Regions from separate parts of the Homo sapiens genome. Here region 1 is linked to region 2. Evidence: fine-mapped expression QTL. Tissue or cell type: visceral fat. Region 2 holds a variant in brackets; the other region holds the start of a gene. All regions are shown on one strand. Distances are between the middles of the regions.

Region 1 (2,682 bases), 56 kb before region 2:
TATGCACACACACTAAAAAACTTACAATAAATAGATGAATTCCTGGAAAGATACAACCTTTTTTTTTTTTGCCAGAGAATGGAATTCCAGATCCTGGGTTGTTAGAACCTTAAGGGATACTTTCATCCCCTGGTTCCTGTACAGGGAGGAGGAATCTGAGGCTCAGAGAAGTACAGTGACTTGTTTAAGGTCCCTCAGTGAGTTAGGGCAGAGGAAGACTTCTGGCCACAGCTTCCCTGAAGCCAAGGCTAGGCAGAGTGTTGATGTCACCCAGGCAACAGGGATGGTGCCCTCTGCCCACCTAGCAAGCCCTGACTCATGCTCCGCGCCCCTGCTGTGAGAAGTCTCTGCTGACTCCCACCCTGATTGGAGCAGGTTAGTCAGCTTTGAGGTGCAGCCTCCAGTTCTGGCCCCTCCAGTTCCGGGACTCTCATTCGAGGCATTTGGGGCTGTCTCATTTCTGTGCCCAGCACAGGGCTTGGCACAGAGGAGGTGCTTTGTGGGTGCCCGCCAGTCAAGGGTTTCCGTTTTCGTGCCATGTAGGTAACCCCTTGCCATTCGTGCCCTTAGGTAACCCCTTGAGCAGCCTAAAGAAGCCTAGAGACTTCTCCGTTTTTGAGTATATTTTATTGACGTGAAATACACGCACGGAAAAGCGCACAAATCCAAAGTGTACTTCCGCGCATCTTCATAAAGTGAACACACTTGTAGCCTAAGAACCCAACCCTACCAGCGCCCGGCAGGCCCTGGCCCCCTTCCAGTCTCTCCTACTGAACAAGGTTTTTGAGTGAAACCGGCAGGCCGGAGCGTGAGTTTCTGCTTGACGGGGCGGGGTCTGCGCGTGCTGCCCGGCCGTGAGTGTGGGGGGGCCGTGAGTGTGTACGGGGTGGAGTGGCCTGAAGGGGATTAGAGTGCGCGCGTTCGGGTATTAATTTGCCAGGGTTTGTGTGGCGCTCGGGATTGGGGGTTTTTTGGGGGCTCGGGCGTCGACTGTGGGGCGCTGCGGAAGGGTGGGTCGTCCGCGTGGGGTCCTGGAGCGCAGGAGGCGGAGGGGAAGCCGCGCAGGGGCCACTAGGGAGGGGCTCTGGCGGGGTCGCAGGGGCGTGGTCTGCGGGCGTGGGGGCGGGACCTCGGGGCCTCGGGGGCGGGGCCTGAGGGCGCGCGCACGCGTCCGGCGCGCCCCCTCCCGGCCGCCATGTTGGCTGGTGTGTGGGTGTCAAACTGAGCCAGACGCGGCGGTGGCGGCGGCTCCGCGGGCTACGGTCGCTCCCGCCTCTCGAGCGCTGCCGGTGGCCGCAGCGGCGCACCCACGCCGGCCCGGAGGAGCAGAGGTGAGCCACAGCCCGTGGGGCTCCAAGGCCAGAGCGAGTCCCCGGGGCGAGGACCCTCCCCCTCTCCAGGGCGCGGACGCCCCCAGAGCACAGGCTCCCCTACCTCACCAGCCCCGCCAGGGCATGCGCCCCTGCCGCCCCGCTGGTCCCTACGCCAGGCTCTGGGGGATCCCCTTCTTTCCAACCAGGCCCCGCCCCACGGACTGGAGCATGGCCCCCTTCCCATCTGGATCCAGCTTTCCGCTGCAAGGATCTCCCCCCTTACCCGTCCCTATCACCGAGCATCTCCTTTTATGTCCCCAGAGTCCAGGGCGCCCCTTACTCCTACCTCGGATCCTGGAGCCCCGTTCATCTTGGAACAACCCCGCCCCCTCCCCAGAGCACGTTCCTCCTCTCCCCGAGCCCGGCGCCCCTTCCTCCTGAGCCCAGCCTGGTCTCCCGCCAGCCCCCGTGCAGAGCCCGGTCCGGGCGCCCTCCGGGAATCGGGGGAGGGGTCCTTATCTCTGTCCGGGATCCCGCCCGTCTCACCTTTCCTGGGGGCTGTAGCAGGGCCCCCTTCCGTCCTTGGGGACCAGGCTCCCCACTCCCCAGCCCCCACTCCCACGGAACAGCGGGGACGGGGGCGGAAGAGCCAGGCTCCAGCTGCCTTTTGTTCCGCGTGGGATGGCAGAGACCCACCCGGCCCGGCGGTCCTGCTCGGCTGATCCGGGTGGGTGAATGGGTGCGTGGGGTCTGGCCTCTTCCAGGAGAGACTTCCTCTCTCTCCCTGTGGGGCGGCTCCCCTAGAGCCGAGAGCCGAGCGCGTTGGGAGGCTGGCCTTTGCTAGAGGAGTCGGTGCCAACAGGTTTTTGTTTGCGACCTGAAGTTTGCCCAGTGGCTTTCCCTGGGGCAGCTTGAGCTCCCTGTGAATCCCCCCGCCGGAGCTTGTGGAAGGCCGTTTCTCCGCCCAAGGAGTCCGTCTGGGCGACTCCTTCACAGTTGTGCTTCCCTGGGGACGTATCTAAAATCTGTGCTTTAAGAGCGGAGAGGGCTTAACCATCATTAGGGTTCAGATGAGGGAAACTGAGGCCCAGAACTGCAGTAATTTGCCCAAGGTCACGCAGTGATACTGTGTCAGTGCAGAACTAGAAGCTAGGTCTCCAGGCTCTGTTTACCACATTTAATAACTTTTTTATCTTTTAGGGAGATGTTCAGGACCCTACCTTCCCCTTTATTTTTAATATTTATGCAAGAAAGTGGGCAGGAAAATATGAGAAGTAATGAGTTATTCCTTTTCACCTCCAGAAAATATCCTGTGAAAGAAGGGATTGGAACAGGGTGTTAAAATGATGGGAAAAGGTGAATTTTAAGA
Region 2 (2,682 bases):
ATTTGAAAGCTTTCTTGTGCGCTGTTTCATGAGTATGTCCAGGAAGTCCCCAGGCACAGTGGGCCCTCAGAGGACTCTCTACGGAAGCTGTCTTCATAACAAGGGAACCTCAGGGGTGAACCAGAGTTGTCATGGCCTCAGCCCTGCTTGCCCAGCTCTGGGAATAGAGCTGAAGCATGCGCACACACAGACACATGTGCACTTACACCAGACATGTACACACAAAGGAGAGTGTTTTGGTAAGAAGGAGGCATCTGAAAAGGGAGTCCTACATGGGTCTACTTTTGAAAACTCAAAGATGTGGGAAAATATATTGTTAAAAAAAAGAAAAGCCAAACCCAGCCAGCGTGTCAGAAGTGCTTCTGAGGTGGACCTTGGAAGGATCCTGGGCCAGCTGAGGTCTCCTGAGAGTGTGGGAGGTGACAGAGCTCCAAGGTGCAGGGCTGAGTGATGCTGCCAGGAACTAGGAGGGCAGCAGGGCCCGCCCGGGGCTGAGAGGTGGTTGGTGGCCACCAGCCAGGTATTTCCTAGTGTCAGGCCAGGGATAGCTACCTGTGGGGAGTGTGTCTAGCCCTCAGGGCCCTTCCATTGGGTTTTGGGGATGGACCAGGAATTTGGTGGGAGATGAGACTCATTTGGCATCTTGTTTTGGTGGAACAAATGTGTTCTGTAAGTCAGGGGAGCCCTGCATCTTCGGCTGGCAGTCAGTCCCAGGGGCAGAGGCACAGCAGGGCTGTCAGCGTTAGCTTACTCTAGAGAGAGTTAATCTCTTCAGGTGGAAAATTGAGTCATGGAGGAAGCTGATCAGTAACATGAACACACCCTCAGAGGCAGCAGATTTATTGACACATCTATCCAAGTATCAGGTATAAAAGATGCTCGTTCTTGCCACAAGGGCTTGGGTTTTAAGTGGGATTTGAATGTGATTCGTGAATGGCTGGGCTGCTAAAGTCAGACAGTTGCCCAACACAACCAGAAGGCATCTGGATCACCTCTCCTGGGCCTTTGCCTTCTCTTAGGAGGAGTCCATTTGCTTCTCACAGTTGTCTAGAAGGTAGGCAGGGCAGATGAGGTTAATAAGGAAACTGACATGAACTTGCTCCCCTAAATCCTCTCATTTGTAAGTGAAGAAGCTAGAATTAGAACTGGGATTTTGAAGAACTCTGGTTCTCTTTCCTCTACTTGACAGTTTTTGAAATTGCTTTAAAATTTTTTCTGCAAAATAGGCAAATACGGTGTACACCTATTACAATTTTAAAATTATATGGTTCATCTTATATAATGCTTTTTTCTGTATTATTATTTTTTTCTTTTTAAGATGGGATTGGCTGGGCAGGGTGGCTCACGCCTGTAATC[C/T]CAGCATGTTGGGAGGTTGAGACGGGCAGATCACCTGAGGCCAGGAGTTCGAGGCCAGCTTGGCCAATATGGTGAAACCCATCTCTACTAAAAATACAAAAAAATTAGCCGGTCATGGTGGTGGGCACCTGTAATCCCAGCTACTCAGGAGGCAGAGGTGGGAGATTCGCTTGAACCTGAGAGGCAGAGGTTGCAGTGAGCCGAGATCACTCCAGCCTGGGTGACAAGAGCGAAACTCCATCTCAAAAAAAAAAAAAAAAAAAGACAGGGTCTTGCTCTGTTGCTCAGGCTGGAGTGCAGTGGTGTGATTGTGGCTCACTGCAGCCTCTACCTCCCTGGGCTCAAGTGATGCTCTCACCTTAACCTCCTGGGTTGCTGAGACTACAGGTGCATGCCACCATACCCAGCTTTTTTTTTTTTTTTTTTTTTTTTTACTTTCTGTATTTTGTAGAGGTGGGGTTTTGCCACGTTGCCCAGGCTGATCTGGAACTCCTGGGCTCAAGCTATCCTCTGGCCTCGGCCTCTCAAAGTGTTGAGATTACAGGCATGCAGGCACAAGCCACCACACTCAGCCAGGAATACCTAATTAAACCATTATTTAATTGGGCCCCAGATCTTAAGGAGCTCCTCTGATTGTCAGAATATGGGATTGTTCTCAGAATTGAAACAGTGCTATCAAGGCTGGGCGCGGTGGCTCATGCCTATAATCCCAGCACTTTGGGAGGCCGAGGCTGGTGGATCACTTGAGGTCAGGAGTTTGAGACCAGCCTGACCAACATGGTGAAACCCCTGTCTCTACCAAAAATACAAAAAATTAGTCGGGTGTGGTGGTGGATGCTTGTAATCCCAGCTACCCAGGAAGCTGAGGCAGGAGATTGCTTGAAGCTTGGGAGGCAGAGGTTGCAGTGAGCTGAGATCGCACCACTGTACTCCAGCCTGGGCAACAGAGCAAGACTCTGTCTTTAAAAAAAAAAAAAAGAAACAGTGCTATCAAAATTGCTGATTGGGAGGCCGGCTGCAGTGGCCCATGCCTGTAATCCTAGCACTTCGAGAGGCTGAAGCAGGTGAATTGCTTGAGCTTAGGAGTTTGAGACCAGCCTGGACAACACAACAAAACCCCATCGCTACAAAAAAAAAAAAAATTAACCAGGCATGGTGGTGTGCACCTGTAGTCCCAGCTACTTTGTGGGGCTGAGGTGGGAGGAATCGCCTGAGCTCAGGAAGTCCAGGCTGCAGTGAACCAAGATTGTGCCACTGCATTCTAGCCTGGGTGACAAAGCGAGACCCTTTCTCAAAAGAAAAAAAATATTGGGGATTGGGTTATTG

Which allele goes with the higher level. Alleles are on the strand shown, and positions count from the first base shown. SD is a standard deviation of normalised expression in the study named.
For the expression in visceral fat of the gene that starts at base 1,166 in region 1, allele C in region 2 goes with a higher level than allele T (small effect, 0.36 SD a copy in GTEx).

What was found. PIP is the estimated chance that this variant, and not a neighbour inherited with it, causes the effect.
Region 1: it holds the start of EPN2, and the variant in region 2 is the best candidate, but not a certain one, in a credible set for the expression of EPN2 in visceral fat (GTEx, PIP 0.53).

Annotation. Positions count from the first base shown.
Region 1 is chr17:19,236,201-19,238,882 of GRCh38, forward strand. EPN2 (epsin 2) reads left to right here and starts at 1,166. Exons shown (of 11, transcript NM_014964.5): 1 at 1,166-1,331. RefSeq lists a silencer at 1,074-1,543.
Region 2 is chr17:19,291,771-19,294,452 of GRCh38, forward strand. The region is part of intron 4 of EPN2 (epsin 2); the gene reads left to right. Among named protein-coding and RNA genes, the nearest start is that of EPN2-AS1, 13 kb to the right of the region's middle. The variant C/T (reference allele first, on the strand shown) is at 1,357.